Linked DNA regions of Homo sapiens: region 1 is linked to region 2. Evidence: fine-mapped QTL for protein levels in blood plasma. Region 2 holds a variant in brackets. A gene starts in the other region. All regions are shown on their reverse strands.

Region 1 (9,120 bases), not on the chromosome of region 2:
CTAGTCCAGGCACTGGAAAGCAAGGCACGTGTCTCCCCAAACACACCTGTCCAGGCCCCAGCTCCTCCCCTCCAAGACCCACTCCTCCCCTCTTCCTGCCTTACACACCTTTCCTGGCAGGAAGAGGACAGCAGTGCCCTGGGTTGCAGGGAAGTTCCAGGCCTCACAGCTGAGCACAGACCAGAGCTGAGCTCCCCCTTGAAGCTCAGGGGCAGTGGGTGGCCCATGAGGGTGGGGCAGGTGTGTTCTCCTCCTCCAGCCCCTCCCTTACCCACCTGTGTACTCCTGTTGCAGGGAGAGGTTCAGGGAAACGTGCTGGGAACCCAGAGAGTTCTGAGCTCGACAGGTGAATTCCCCTTCATCCCCCAGGTGCACTTGCAGCTCCAGTACCAGAGGGTTTGAGGGCTGTGAGGGGTACAGGGTCAGACTCCTCCAGGTCCAGCTCAGCCTGGCAGGGGGATTGCTGTCAACAGCACAGACCAAGCGCAGAGACTGGCCCTCTAGGACTGAAAGAGATGAGCTGTTCCCCAGAGCTGTGGATGCTGTAGAGAAAAAGTTGGAGGTTCAAAGAGACAAAGTGATTGAAACAGGGAGGAAGGATACAGAATGAGACTGGGGAATGGAACAGAGAGTGATGTAGGCTGGTGCAGGGACATACTTATGTTCACCGCTCACTGTTGGGAATGTAAACTTGCCCACCTTTATTTGAGGACAACTTCACCATATCTTTCAAAATCAGAAAGAACATATGACACTGGTAAAATGTGCTTTTAGGAATTTATCCTATACACTTAGATATTCCTTGTGGGAGTAGATACAACATTATTCATTGCAGTGTTCGTGCCGTAGGATAAAATTAGTGCCATGATCTTCCATTAGGAGATGCCACAAAATCAGAGACTATTCAGACAGTGGAATCACACACATCCCTAGAAGAGGGTGCAAACAGTCTCACTGCTGACATCAAACCACCTCTGAGATCTTCCAGGTGCACAAACCAAGGCTCAGGACAGCCTGGACAGACCCTGGTTGATTCTGGGGACACATTTTACTGTGAATTTAAAATTTTTGCCCACGTGATTATAGCATGTATCCAAAAGAACGTAGCTCAAAACTATTGGGTAAAATAAAAAGACGAGTTAGGTGGCATATTCAGGAGATGGAAGATAAGAGGCCCAAAGGCTGCTCCTGCTATATGTATTTCCCCCTGTCCTGGCTGCAGGGCTGAGGAGGGTGTGTGTGCAAGAGTCTGAGGGGAGTGGGGGGAAGAGGACAGGTGCTCAGGTGGCCACAGAGGCTAAGGATGGGGAGGAGGCCTGGGTTCAACTACAAGGGAGTCTCATATCACCAGGGTGAGTCCAGGATGAGGAGGGACCTGGCCCTGCCCTGAGCTGAAGGCCCTGCTCCCCCAGCCCCAGGGAGGGGGCTCCATCCTACCTGTGCCTTCTCCTTGGAAGACAGTCACAGTCAAGTTCTGAGGAGGGTCTGGGACAGAAAGACATGGAGACCTGCATCACTGTGAGGGCTGGGGACACTGGCCCTGTCTCCCCAGGAGCTGCATAAATGGGGAAGGCGGAGCCAGCGTCCTCCTGATCCCACAACCAGCCCAGATTCTGGGACCCAGCACCCAGTGTCGAGCCCTGACCCCATCCTCTGCCCTCAGGGACGTCCCCCCCTCATCAGGGACCAGGGCGTCCTGGCTCAGCACTCACAGGACACATTGAGTTGGATGGTCCTGTTCGTGGTCACGCCGGCCCCAGGCAAGGTCACCTGACAGGTGAGGCTGGTGCCGTGGTGCTGGGGCTGTGGGATGAGGGTGAGCACTGAGGAGCGGGTGGTGGAGGGGTGCAGGGGGGACACAGAGGTCCCCATCCAGGAGATCATAGGGGGCGTCCCCTGCTCACAGGCCCAGGGCACAGAGCAGGTCAGATTCTGGAAGCAGCCAGACTCCAGGGTACCGGGGATAAGGATGTTGGGCCTGTGGGTCAAGGCTGGTGAAGAGAGGGGGACTCAGGATCAGGACAGAGGATCCATGGTACAGCCCTGGGGGAAGCTCAGGCTCTGGTTCAGCTTCTGCCCTGAGCCCAACTCGCTTCACCCTCAGCCCTCTCCCAGGGCAGGGGCCCCATCCCAGGCTTTCGCTGCCACCCCCATGACCTTTCCCTGTGGTGTCTCCTGGAGCCTGTGCCTTATCTGTCACATTCACAGAGAGCTGCTTCGTTTTGTAATTCCATCTTATCTGTCCTCTCTCCACCTGGAAGTAGTAGTTCCTCAAATCCCCCTTCCTGGCATCTCTGATGCTCAGGGAGCAGTTGTTGGTCTTCAGGTCCCCAAGGAGGTGGAATCGGCCCCGTGTCTCCTGCACTTTTCCATTTGGGATGTTTGTGGCCACTGGATTATTCCATTGTATATTGATCCCTTTCTTAAACCAGCATCCATGGACAGGGCTAGAGTCAGTTCAGTTGTAATAGGGTTAAAGGACACTGCAGGGCACAGAGACGCACTAGCCCTCCTGCACCATCACCAACTCCAGCACCTCCAGCCTGTATCTTGACAGTGGGGCCTGGGACGCTGTGGGGAAATGAGGCTCAGCCCAGCCCCGACTGTCCCTCTCTTCATTTGCCCACAAGAGAGGCAGCAGCATCTCTGAGACAGAGGGTTCCTGGGCTCCTTGTGTGAGCAGAGAAGTGGGAGGGAGAGGAGGGGCAGGGCTGTGGGACCCACAGGGGGCTGGAGAGGGGCTGGAGAGGAGCTGGAGACCTCAACCCAGCACGAAAGAGAAACTACAAACCCACATGCTATAGGAACTGGTTCCCTCTGCACAGAGTGAAGGAAACCCTGAAGCTCAGAGACCCTAGAGACCCACCCAGGGAGGAGAAGAGACCGTGTCCCACCTCCTACCTCCGGGCTTCCCTGGAGCACCAGGGCCTGCACCAGACACGTAGGTCCTGCCCTCCCGGCCTCTGGACCATCGTGGAGGTCCCTCCTGTCTTTTGAGCATCTAAATGTGGATCTCCGAGGACCTCAGGGCATGAGAGATGGAGGGGCCGTGTGCTGAGTCTCCCTGTCCAGGCTCAGGTGCCTCTGCTGCCCTTGGTTTGCGCCAGGAAGTGCTTCCTCCCTGGCCTGGCCTGAGAGAGTCACGGGGTTGTGTAGACCTAAGGCTCTCAACTGGGGAGGACTTAACCCCCCAGGACGTTTAACAATGTGTGGAGATAATTGTTATTGTCTCACTGCATGGGTGGAGTGGGTGCTTCTGGCATCTGGTGGGGAGAGGCCTGGGATGGTGCTAAACCCCGGCCATGCCTAGGACAGGCCCCAAAACAAGGAGTCATAAGGCCCCACATGCCACAATGCCAGCGTCAGAGGCAGGATGAGGATGTCAGGCCTGTGGGTCAGGGCTGGTGAGGGGAGGGGCCTGCAGGATCAGGAGGGGCATCCAAGGTGCGGTCCTGGGGAAGCTCAGGCTCTGGTCCAGCTCCTCTCCTGAGTCCATCACCCCCGGCCCCCTCCCAGGACATGTGTCCCGTCTCAGCCGTGCCCTAAAGCCCTCATCACATTTGCCTTTGGCCTCTCTTGGAGCCCGTGCCTTACCTGTCACGTTCACAGAGAGCTGGTCATATTTATAATTCCATTTTATATTTCCTTTCTCCATACGAAAGAAGTATCTCCCCGCATCACTCATTCTGGCATCTCTGATGCTCAGGGTGCAATTTTTGGTCTGTGGGTCCCCAAGGAGGTGGAATCGGTCCCGAGTTTCCTCCTGCACTGCCCAAGCTGGGTTGTTTGTGGCCACTGGAGCCTTCCAGCTTATATCATTCCCTGCCCGGAACCAGTAGCCATGAACTGGGTCAGAGTCAGTCTGGCTGTCCACTGGGTAGGAGAAGGAGCAGCGCACATGGACACACATGCCCTCTTGCACGGTCACGGAACTCTGCATCGTCAGCGAGTAATCCTTCCGGTTACTCTTCTGTCCTTCCACCCTCTCCCTCCCCCAGAGCAGGGGCAGCAGCAGCAGCAGCAGCATATCTGGGGTTGGAGGTGCCAGGGCCGCGAGGGAACGTCTGTTCCTCAGGGTTCTTCTCTCAGGAACTGCGGGCTCAAGACTTAGAAGAGGCCCTACAGGAAGTCGGTGGTGAGGTCAAAACAGTGACCTCCTTAGAAGAAGAACTTCACACACAGACACTGTCAGGGCTGGGTCAGCCCTGGGAGATCCACCGTCCACCACCCGACATTCACTCCTGGGTCCCTGAGGCCAGAGCGGGAGACAGACTCACCCAGATTCCCACCCCATGCAGGGCCCACCCCACCTCCTGCCTCCCTCTCAATGCCTTTCCCTTTAGGTGATATTTTCTGCAGGGTGAAAATAACTCCCATCTGCCCAGACCCCTGAGTCACAGGCTGTGGATGTCTGCGTAGCTCAGAAGTGGGACTCGGGGCCATGAGAGACAGGGGTGCAGGTGGGGTGAACAGGCAGCCTCTCATCCCTCCCTCAGCAGCCACGAGGTGGGCACCCCCTTTCTGCACAATGAGGTCAACACAGCAGAGCCGGACACTGTCCCCAAGGAGTCACTGTGTGGTGGGGAGACACTGAGTCTCCTGACGTTTGAGCTCCCCATGACAGGAGCTTCAGTGGGGGGCACAGGCAGGGTGGGGTCACTCTCCCCTAGGTCGGGGGTTCAGTCTCAGGAGGACCGAGCAGACGGACATGGGGCTGTGAAGGTGAGGATTGCGCCTGTTGATACACGCCAAGGACACGGAGGGGAGCCCAGCCTGCAGGAGGCCGGGGAAGCTGAGGCTGTGATTGTTGTATTGTGGGGCTTGGTAGACAGGAAAGTCATAAGGGAAAGGATCAATATGAAAAGAGCAGACACTATTCCCATCCTCACAGCTCTCTGAGCACAAGGACATTTCCCTTCACCACTGCTATCTCATGAGGCCTGGTTAGTGCAGAGTGTGAGGGGTCTGCTGGCCCTGGGGCTTTGCTCCTGCAGGAACTGCTCCTAGGGGTTCAGGTGAACAGGAGACGTGGAGCAAAGACACCAGCCCCGGGGCGTCCACCCTCAGTGATGGGCGCGATTTTCTGAGAGAAGAAACACGCACCTGACTTCAACAGAAGATTATTTTAAACTGTGTGACTGGGCTGGGAGGAAGTGGGAAAAATCCTGCAAGCTGCAGCCCCCTTAGATCCAGGCCAGCTTTTCTTGAAACAGTTTTTTTTGAGCGGGGAGAAACACAAGACATGTACATAAAAGTGTCCCCTAAAAACCAACTCAGTGATTCACACAAAATAAGCACCCTTGAAGAACTAGAACACAAAAGAACTGTCAAGTCTGTCCCTTGAAATGAAGAAAGAGATTTTATTAATTCATTCACCCTTACATTCCCCTTTCCTATTGGCCATGCCCCCGCTCCCTCCTGAAGGAGCCCCTAGCCTCACTTTAATGATAATAGTCTTCCTGCTGTTCTATGTAGTTTTATCATCGGCACATGCTGCCTTGAAAATTCTAACTTCACGTAGGTTTTCCTGAAGATGTTGTATACATAGAAAATCCCAGTCTGTTTTCTTCCATACAACTGCATTGATCTGCTCAGCCCACACTGTCCCCTAATTGTCCATAACCTAGAGATCATTTGGCTGTAACGATTGAGAGAGGAAGATGCTGGGTTTGGGCGTCCGAAGCCACTCCCCGCCCTCACCTCCAATCCCTGCATTTGCAGCTAGTATCTCATCCTGCAGACCAATCTGCCTCCTGGGCGCCTCCTCCTTGCCCAGCCACTCTCTCCCCATAAGGATATTTGCAGTATCTCAGTGGGCAGAAGTGTTACCGGATGGTGCCATGCAGTTCCAGGCTCTTGGTGTCTTAAACAAAGAATTGGATGAGACACACACAGACAGCAAAGCAAGAAGCAGCAGTTTATTAAGCACAGTATCACACTCTTGGAGAGGGAGAGCGAACTGATCTCTATGAGGTGAGATCAGCATTACTTTGGGTCTTTTTATGTTTGTTTGTTTGTTTTTTTGTTTTTCTTCGCTTCCCAAGGCTGCCAAATCTCTATCCAGTGTCTGCCTTTTTTCGGGGGGAAGGGGTGGTGGTGAGGTGGGGACGAAGTCACCCAAGCTTGAGTGCAGTGGCACAATCTTGGCTCACTGCAACCTCAACCTTTTGGGTTGAAGCGATTCTTCTGCCTCTGCCTCCCTGGTAGCTGGGACTACAGGCGCCCGCCACCATGCCTGGCTAATTTTTGTATTTTTAGTAGAGATGGGGTTTCACCAGGTTGGCCAGGCTGGTCCTGAATTCCTGACCTCAAGTGATCCGCCCACCTTGGCCTCCCAAAGTGCTGGGATTACAGGCGTGAGCCACCGCGCCTGGCCAGTGCCTGCCTTTTTGATGGTTAAGTATGTTGCTTAGTTACTTTGACCCATCCCATAATTTTAAGTACATGGATAATATGCAGTCCATATGCATGAACTTTAATGAGCTGATTATCATACAGGGTCATGTTAAGGATACTTTTTCTCTCTAATGCACATGCATAGCTCTGAAGAACTGCCCCTTACTGGTTTGGTCCAGATCCTGCTGGCCACGGGTGTCCTTGCTCACTTCTCTATCTTACTTTTTGTTTTGGCTGCTCAACTTCTGCCTCTTGCTTCTTGCTCACCCGTCCCCTCACCTTGCTTCTGCTCTCTGCTTTTACTTATTCTGCCCTTTATCCAACTTTTAATTCTCTTTGCTATGCTCCTGCCCCATTGGTCTATGCTCCTCCTGCCTCAGAAGGGCTAGACCATGGCCCATCTCTTTCCCACAGTCCCCAGTTTGCAATTAAAATCAGAAAAAAAAATGGGAAGGAGAGACTTAAGGAAGCCACAGAATCTGTAGAAAGGAGGAACTTGTGAACCACATATGACCCAGGGGAGCTGACAAGCCCTCTACTCCCACTTCCACAGTTCGGAGAGGAAGACATCAAGGTCCACAGTGACAAGTGCTATGGTCTGAATATGTCACCTCAAAATTCATTTGTTGAAATTTGAATCCCCATGTGATAGTATTAGAAGGTATAATGATTTGGGAGGCGATTAGGCTATGAGGACTCTGGGATTAGTCTAATGGGATTAGTCCCCTCATCTGAGAGACCCAGGGGAATTTGCACAGCCCTTCCACCACATGAGAACATAAGGAAAAGGCACCATCTATGAGGAAGCAAACTGTCTCCAGACACCAAACCTGCTGGCACCTTGGTCTTGGACTTCTCAGCCTCCAGAACTGTGAGAAATGAATTTCTGTTGTTTATAAACTGGCCAGTTTATGGTATTTTGTTGTAGCAGCATGAATGGACAGAGATAGAAAGCGAATTGCCCAAATCACACAGGTCTCCTGGGCCCTGTCTCCTGCACCAATGTCTGCCCAGGAGCCACTTAATTAATCTTGTCTGCCCAGGACAGACTGGGCTGGGACAGGGGAAGCTGATGTTACTTGGAGAGTGAAAGAACTGTCAAGTCTCTCACATGAGATAAGGAAAGACATTTCATTCATTCATTCATTCATTCATTCATTCGTTCTGTATTCAGATTGTGAGCACCCGTGCTGTGCCTTGAGATTTCCAGCAAAGGGTAAGTGTTTGCCCAATCGCTCCCTCCCAGGAGGGGAAGTTGCAGCATCTCAGTGGTCAGAAGGGCTGAGCCATGGCTGACAGTGATGTCCTGCATCTGTCCCGCAGGGCTGGGTGTCCTCATCTGAGTTCTGTCTTGAGCAGGAGGGGCTCAGTCAGGCCTCTCAGCCCTGCTCCCCTGGGGGCCTCCACACCTGTAGAGCCAACACCGGCCTCAGATTAGCATCGGCCACTTCAATTCTAACTCAGGCGGGACAGGACAGCTCAGCCCCATCTGGAACTCGGGGGCCAATCCCTCGGCTTCCCTAGAAAAGAGCAGCCCTGCTCACCTGGAGTAGTAGCCCCAGGTGAGGCCACGGGTGAAGGAAAAACCAGTGCCCATGAGCGCCCCTTGATTAGGTGAGAACCAGGGGCTGGGAGCCCTCCTGATCTTCACTCGCACATCTGCACCCAGAGGGACTTCCTGGGAGTGGGGAGAAGAGGGTGAGGTTTTGTTCCTAGGTCTAGGCCCCTCTCACAGCCCAACACCTGACCAGGCTGCCTGCCCCAGCACCCGTCCAGCAGCTCCCTCTGCACAGAGAGGCTCAGGGAAATGTGCTGGGAGCCCAGTGGGTGCTGAGCCTCACAGGTGAGGTCGCCTTCACCTCCAGTCCCTTTCTGGGGCAGCTCCAGGATCCCAGTTGCTGAGAGCTGGGAGAGATTCAGTGTTCTTCCCTCCTGAGACCAGCTCAGTGAGGCGGGGGAGTTGCTGTCAGTCACACAGACCAGGCCCAGGGACTGACCCTCCAGGACAGGAAGCGAGGTGCCATTGCTCAGGGTCTTCAGGGTTGAGTGAGGAAAACAGTGAGAGCGGGGAGGGTGGAGCTGAGAGGCTGTCTCTCCCACAACCCCACAAAAACAGAAAGAGGAGACACCTGACTGTGTGACACATACTCACGAATGCAAATCCAGGAGTTCAAAAAGCTGAAAGACCCCGCAGGGAAAGAGGCTGAGCTGAGACTAGTGGGGGAGTTGGTCATATTAACAGGTGGCTAAGGGCACCTCAGGTGGAGGGGAAAAAGCACAGGCCATGAGACAGCCGGGCAGATGAAGGGCCCTGCAAATATGTGTGGGGTCTTCCAGGGGGAAATTGGAGGTGCTGGGACATGATCAGCTGAACAGCTTGGACTGAGGGTTCCAGGGAACCAGAGAGGGCCCTGAGCAGGGAAGAGGCAGTGTCAGCTCTGGATGCAGGAAAATTTTTCAGGGCTTGTGCTGCGAGGGCCACAGCATGGAGGCGAGAGGCTGCAGACCGGGATGTTGGGTGGGAAATGGAGCAATCGTCAAGACCGAAAAGGGCCTGGCCATGCAGATAGAGGGGAGGAGACAGGGAATGGAGGGAGGAGGAAGGGCATGATGGCAGACATTTTTGGGGAAGTGAAGTTTACAGGAACCCCTGACTCATGCATGGGGTGGTTGAAAACAGGAGGCAACTGGAATAAGTCCTGGGTCCTGACTGGGATAACTGAA
Region 2 (5,839 bases):
CCCTCCCTACAAAAAAATACAAAAGTTAACCAGGCATGGTGGTGCACACCTGTGGTCCTAGCTACTTGGAAGCTGAGGTGAGAGGATTGTTTGAGCCTGGGAGGTCAACGCTGCAGTGAGCTATGATCATACCACTGCACTCCAGCCTGGGTGATAGAGCAAGATCCTGTCTCGAAACAGCAAAAGAAAATAAAACATGCTAGATGATGCTAGATGCTCCCTGGAACATATTACTGTCTTTTTCAGGGTCTGGTCTCCCTATCCCTGTGCCCAAACACACACTGACAGATACAAGCCTGGAGTCCACACCAGTCAACTCCAGGGAGCCTGTGAAGTTGTTATTTTGCTGGTTAATTGATGGGAGTGGGTTACAACTCTGGAAGAGTAGGCAAAAGGTCTCACTAGGTAGGTCAGATTTCTAGGCCTGAAACCTGCTATGTAATTTGCAAAGTCCACAACAAAATGCAAATCAGGGATACCTTGTTCACAAACTTAAAATTTCATGATGACCACGGCAGAGCTTTAAACCAAGCACAGGGTCCCTCCAAGTGCAGGGCTCTGTGTGTGGGGGGCACCGGTCACAGGCCCACAAGGCCACCCTGCCTGAGTTCCAACCCCTCAGGGTCAGGATGGGCCCTGGGGACTTACTTGTTTTACAAGTATTTCCAAGGGTTCTGATGCAGGTGACCCTCAGCTGTCTTTGAAGAAAGGCTTCTTCAGCATCAAGTCAATGTTCCAACTCTCCCTTGAGCAAGGATGGTACAAAAGAAGGCATCCTTGATTTCCGCAGAATCGGGCACAGCCCAGACTCTGGTCACAGACGCCCACAGCTATGACTCAATCCGACTATATTTGGACTGAGGAAATCTTTCCTCATCAGGTCACAAATAAAAGAATTACCGTACAGAATGGAAACACCTAAATCAGGGTTCTCGAGGGAAGGATGTGAAAGAAAACAAAAGGCCAGTGTCCTTGGTAGGTTGGTGGGTCTGGGCTAAAAGCATGAGACTGCCTTGGTATGAATCACAACCGTATATAGGGCTGGAAAGGCACTTACATGATTCAAAGTTTCCACACGAGACTTAAGAAAAAAATGAGAAACATCTGTTGGAGCAGTAAACAGCTGTCCCCCGGAGTTTCACAGCTCTGAGAGGATGCCGCCAAGGTGGGGCTCCTCCCCACACCTGCGGCTTCCAGGTTCTCGTGACAATCCCTGCACAAACCCAGGGCGCGCATGATGATAGCAGGTTCCTTCCAAACAGGAAAAGAAGTCGTAACTGAAAACCCTCACTTCTTCCATCCCTGCAGAAAGCCAAGCCTCTTCACCACAGGAGACTGTTTTGTTTCCTTCTTGAGACAGCAGGAAGTGGGAGACTTGGAAAATCTATTGTCAACTGATATACGATGCACGCGGACATGCAGAAGATGGGAGTGAAGTTGCTGCTTCAGATCAGTCACAGTACTTGCGTCTCAGTCACAGAAATTCCATGAGGGTGGGCTGCTATATTCCCACTATTTATGTGGCGTTACCAGAGGCAACTTCCAAAATCCACGAGGAAGCAAAACTGTGGGATGGCTCATTCTCAGAAACATAGATGGACTTTGGAGAACTTGTCTATGCATTTTTTT[T/G]GTTTGTTTGAGAAGACCCATTATGGCTTTCTTGTTTATATCAATATAGGAAGGAAGCTGTCAAAAGTACACATGAATCACAGCTCTCCAGATGCCTGGTTCAAATTTCAAAGATGACTTTATCTTCTGCAAACTTGTTTTGCCTTCCTGGTGGCCTTTCTTGCTCTATTTTATCTTGTTTTGTTTTTTAAGCACGAGAGCATTCCTTTACCTTAAGTCCCACAGGGTGCTGATATAGCATCCCCTGAAGGTGGGCTTCTTCTCCATTCAGGTGGGGATGCACAGCTACAGCCTCCAAAGGGGGTGGATGGGGGTGGTCAGTTTGCCAGCCACGCCAGATGACATCTCTCGCCACTAGGGGCCTCCCTAAGAGAAGTGATCAGCGTTCTTTCTGGACATTAAAACTCAGCTTGTTTCCTCGATGTATGGCCTCCAGGGGCGTGTCAAGCATTTGATGACCCACAGCAGCCCCAGACTGTGTGAGGCTGGGCAGATGCAGAGCTGTTAGGGGAAACGTTCCTTCGTTGACAATTTCTGGACCTGATCATGACAACCTGGGGCTAAGACACGACCTGACCAGTGATGATGTTACCACCTTCAGCTTCCATCTGGGAGCCAGGAAAGCACAAAGTGGGACCTTTGGTTCTAGGCTGTGCAGCCCTCCCCTTCCCAGCCCTCATCTCTCTCCTGGTGCCCCTCACTGCCTAGACACAGACCCATCAAGATCAGAAGCAGGAGGTTGAGCTGATGCAAGAATATGCAGCATGGTGTCAGCTGATGTGGTTTCGAACATCACAGAGACAACGTCCCTAGAGGTTGCTGGAGTGGGTTGTGAGAAGACCATCCAGTGTGGAACTGGAGCTCATTGTGCACATGACACCTCTCAACTCTCTTGCTCCTCTCCTTAACTCTTGGTTACTTGGTTTGCAATAGGGAAGGACTGGATTGCTGAGAAGCATTGGCATATTGTTCCCAGTTGAATATCCAGGAGTTACTTTGAGCTTCTAGAACTGAAAGTGTTTCTAAACCAACTCATATTGGAATCCTTGTAAGCCCAGGATGTATCTGAGGGTGAACACAAATTGTGCTTATTTTAAAATACATATGTACACATGTATGCATATGTTACAGACATATGCATCTGTGTACACATATGTATGTGTATATTGATATATGCATATATATACACGTATGTATACATGTGCATACACCTGCATATAAATATGTGTGTATATCTCTATTTATGTGCCTGGACATATGCATATGTATACATGTATGTGTGTGCATGCATGTGTATACATATATGTGCATAGACATGCATAGGCATACATATGTACACATGTATAGTGTATAAACATAAGCATGCATATGTATGTTTATATAGACACATGCATATGCGAACATGTGTATGCATGTGTGGTATAAGCATGCATATGCATACATATGTATGCATGTATGTATACAGATGTGGATATGCATACATGAATATACATACATGGTACATAAACATGCATATGCAGCCCAGGCACAGTGGCTCACGCCTGTAATCCCAGCACTTTGGGAGACCGAGGCAGGCAGATCTCCTGAGGTCAGGAGTTTGACACCAGCCTGGCCAACACAGTGAAACCCTGTCTCTACTAAAAATACAAAAATTATCTAGGCGTGGTGGTGAACGCCTGTAATACCAGCTACTTGGGAGGCTGAGGCAGGAGAATCGCTTGAACCCAGGAGGTGGAGGTTGCAGTGAGCCAAGATTGTGCCGCTGCACTCCAGCCTGGGCGACAGAGTGAGACTCCTCTCAAAAAATAAAATAAAATTAAATTAAATTAAAACAAAACATGCATATGCATACACGTCTAGAATATGCATGCACACGTATAACACACATGTATAGACGTATGCACACATATGCATACATGTAAGTATGTATAGAATATTGTGTGTGTGTGTATATATATATAATTCCTCATATTCTTACCTTCAAGCCTCCCCCATAGCTATTCCAAATTTGAGACAATTTACTCTTATTTCCTTAGGTCTATGACTTTGCTTTGATAGAGAGGACTGACTAGAGAAGACCAAACCCAAATTCAGGTCCAGCAACTACCCATGTTGTCCTCAAACTTCAGAATCTTATCTCAAGTGTCTTCACTGACACTGCAGGCATGCTCTGGGAGACTGAGTGTGACCCACAGGTGCCAGCCCCGTGTGCTCTTAACCTTGAAGATACCATCAGCTGCTTCCCACAAGCAGTAAGCATGGCTGTTTCTTTCTGGGCCATGGGGTGTGGTTAGGGAGCAAATCAGTCCTGACTCCAGCTGCATTAACCACGCCATCATACCTCCCCGTGACGATGCTGTGACTTGTATCTGGTTTTCCAATCTGGTTCCTGGGCCTAACCCTGCTGGGCACTAGTTAGGATGGGGTCTCTACGAGCCTGCGCAAAACTCCAGTTAGAGCAAGAGCAGAGCTCTCCCGTCTGAGAAAGGAAGTTAGTACATGAAGGAGCTGGCTCCCACAGGCAGTACCGACAACGTCAAGGAGAGCACAGTCCTTGAAGCACTTCCTGATGACCCCAATTATTCCTAGCAGCCATGGTAATAAACACTCCGGAGCACCTCTCCAATGACGTCTGTGACAACCCTCCAGGGTCACATACTGCTAACTTCCAACCTCAAGGCGGAAACCATCTTCCTGCCTGGCTGCTCCTGCTTAGGGAGAAGGGCTAGGCCTGGAAGGGTCTGCAGCTCTAGGGGGCAGATATTCTGGGGAGAAGCAGGACTTCAGAACACCTCTCAGGCTTCATCCAACAACCCCTAAAAACTGCATTAATGTGCACAGAAGAACCGATGGCCCATAGAAGACCCATGTTCTGGTTTGCTGGGGGAGGCTGGGTGGGAAGGGCAGCTTTGGTAACTACCAGCCACAGGACACTTCTGTACATTTGAGTCACTTCCATGTGACCCTTAGCAAAGACACAAATAGACCCTTTGATGTGTGGGTCCCTCACCAAGAAGCCATGCATTTGTAGGGCGTTGCAGAGGGGACTCTGTGCTCCTTCCGCCTCCTTGCCTCCTCCTGCTTCCTCTTCCTTTTGGTGAAAGGAAAACACAGGGAAAAGACAAGGAAAGGCCATGAGGCCTGACATTTCCTGGCTGTCACTGCCAATGAGTGCTTCAGAGTGCAAACAGGGGACATTGAGGAGGTGATGCTGGGAAGTGGAAGCCCAGAGCCATTGCCAAGGTCTGCTTGGTCAAGAACAGGCTGCAGGTCGGATACAGTGGCTCACACCTGTAATCCCAGCACTTTGGGAGACCAAGGCGGGCTGATCACTTGAGGTCAGGAGTTCAAGACCAGCCTGGTCAAGATGGTGAAACCTCACCTATACTAAAGATACAAAAATTAGCTGAGCATGGTGGCATGGGCTCGGGAGGGTGTAGTCCCAGGTACTCGGGAGGGTGAGGCAGCAGAATCGCTTGAACCCAGGAGGCGGAGGTTGCAGTGAGCTGAGATCACACCACTGCACTCCAGCCTGGGTGACAGAGCAAGACTCCATCTCAAAAAAAAAAACAAAAAAAAAAAACAGGCTGCCAAGAGTGTGCTGAGCCCTCTGGAGCTGGGAGAATGTTGGATGTAAGGCCCTTGCTGGACCTGCTGTCCAAAGGGTCTTTCACTCATTTGTTCATTTGTTCCTTCATTGGTTCATCCAGTTTGCATGGACTGAAATGCTGGCTGACTGCAGGCAGTGAGAACTCGGAGCTCAACTCAACAGCTCAGATTCTTGCCCTCAAGAAGCTTCCATTCTAGAGGGTGAGGCTCACAATAAACAAGTTGCAGACACTAGTCAGTCATCTCATCTAACAAAAATACTGGGTAGCTATGTTATTAAATTAAATACATGCAGGAAAAGAAATTGCCCATTATAGGGAATGAGAACCTATATACACCCACCCTAAGCCAAACTGTTAAATATAAATCTGGACTGGGGGTTGGGGGTAGAAAGAGGCTCATCTCAAATGCTTCACCTTTTGGGGTCTGAACCAGCCACTTGCTGGCGGCAACCTCTGCCTCCCGGGTTCAAGCGATTCTGCTGCCTCAGCCTCCCAAGTAGCTGGGACTACAGGCCCATGCCACCATGCTCAGCTAATTTTTGTATCTTTAGTATAGGTGAGGTTTCACCATCTTGGTCAGGCTGGTCTCGAACTCCTGA

Which allele goes with the higher level. Positions count from the first base shown, and alleles are read on the strand shown. Strength reflects both the effect of a copy and how common the allele is.
For the plasma level of the protein whose gene starts at base 4,096 in region 1, allele T in region 2 goes with a higher level than allele G (moderate association).

The links. PIP is the posterior inclusion probability: the model's chance that the variant is causal. Protein levels are from antibody-based Olink assays in UK Biobank. Linkage for the fine-mapping came from a reference panel and not from the study's own genotypes, which makes the PIPs less certain.
Region 1: SIGLEC7 starts here. The variant in region 2 is fine-mapped to the plasma level of the SIGLEC7 protein (UK Biobank, PIP 0.96).

The regions. Positions count from the first base shown.
Region 1 is chr19:51,137,277-51,146,396 of GRCh38, reverse strand. It overlaps SIGLEC7 (sialic acid binding Ig like lectin 7), which reads right to left and starts at 4,096. Exons shown (of 7, transcript NM_014385.4): 1 at 3,595-4,096; 2 at 1,713-1,991; 3 at 1,438-1,485; 4 at 276-542. The coding sequence starts at 4,027. It overlaps LOC124904749 (a long non-coding RNA gene), which reads left to right and starts at 5,887. Exons shown (of 3, transcript XR_007067310.1): 1 at 5,887-5,973; 2 at 7,571-7,612.
Region 2 is chr17:68,395,376-68,401,214 of GRCh38, reverse strand. All of the region lies in intron 10 of ARSG (arylsulfatase G), which reads right to left. Among named protein-coding and RNA genes, the nearest start is that of MIR635, 26 kb to the left of the region's middle. RefSeq lists an enhancer at 2,048-2,407. The variant T/G (reference allele first, on the strand shown) is at 1,630.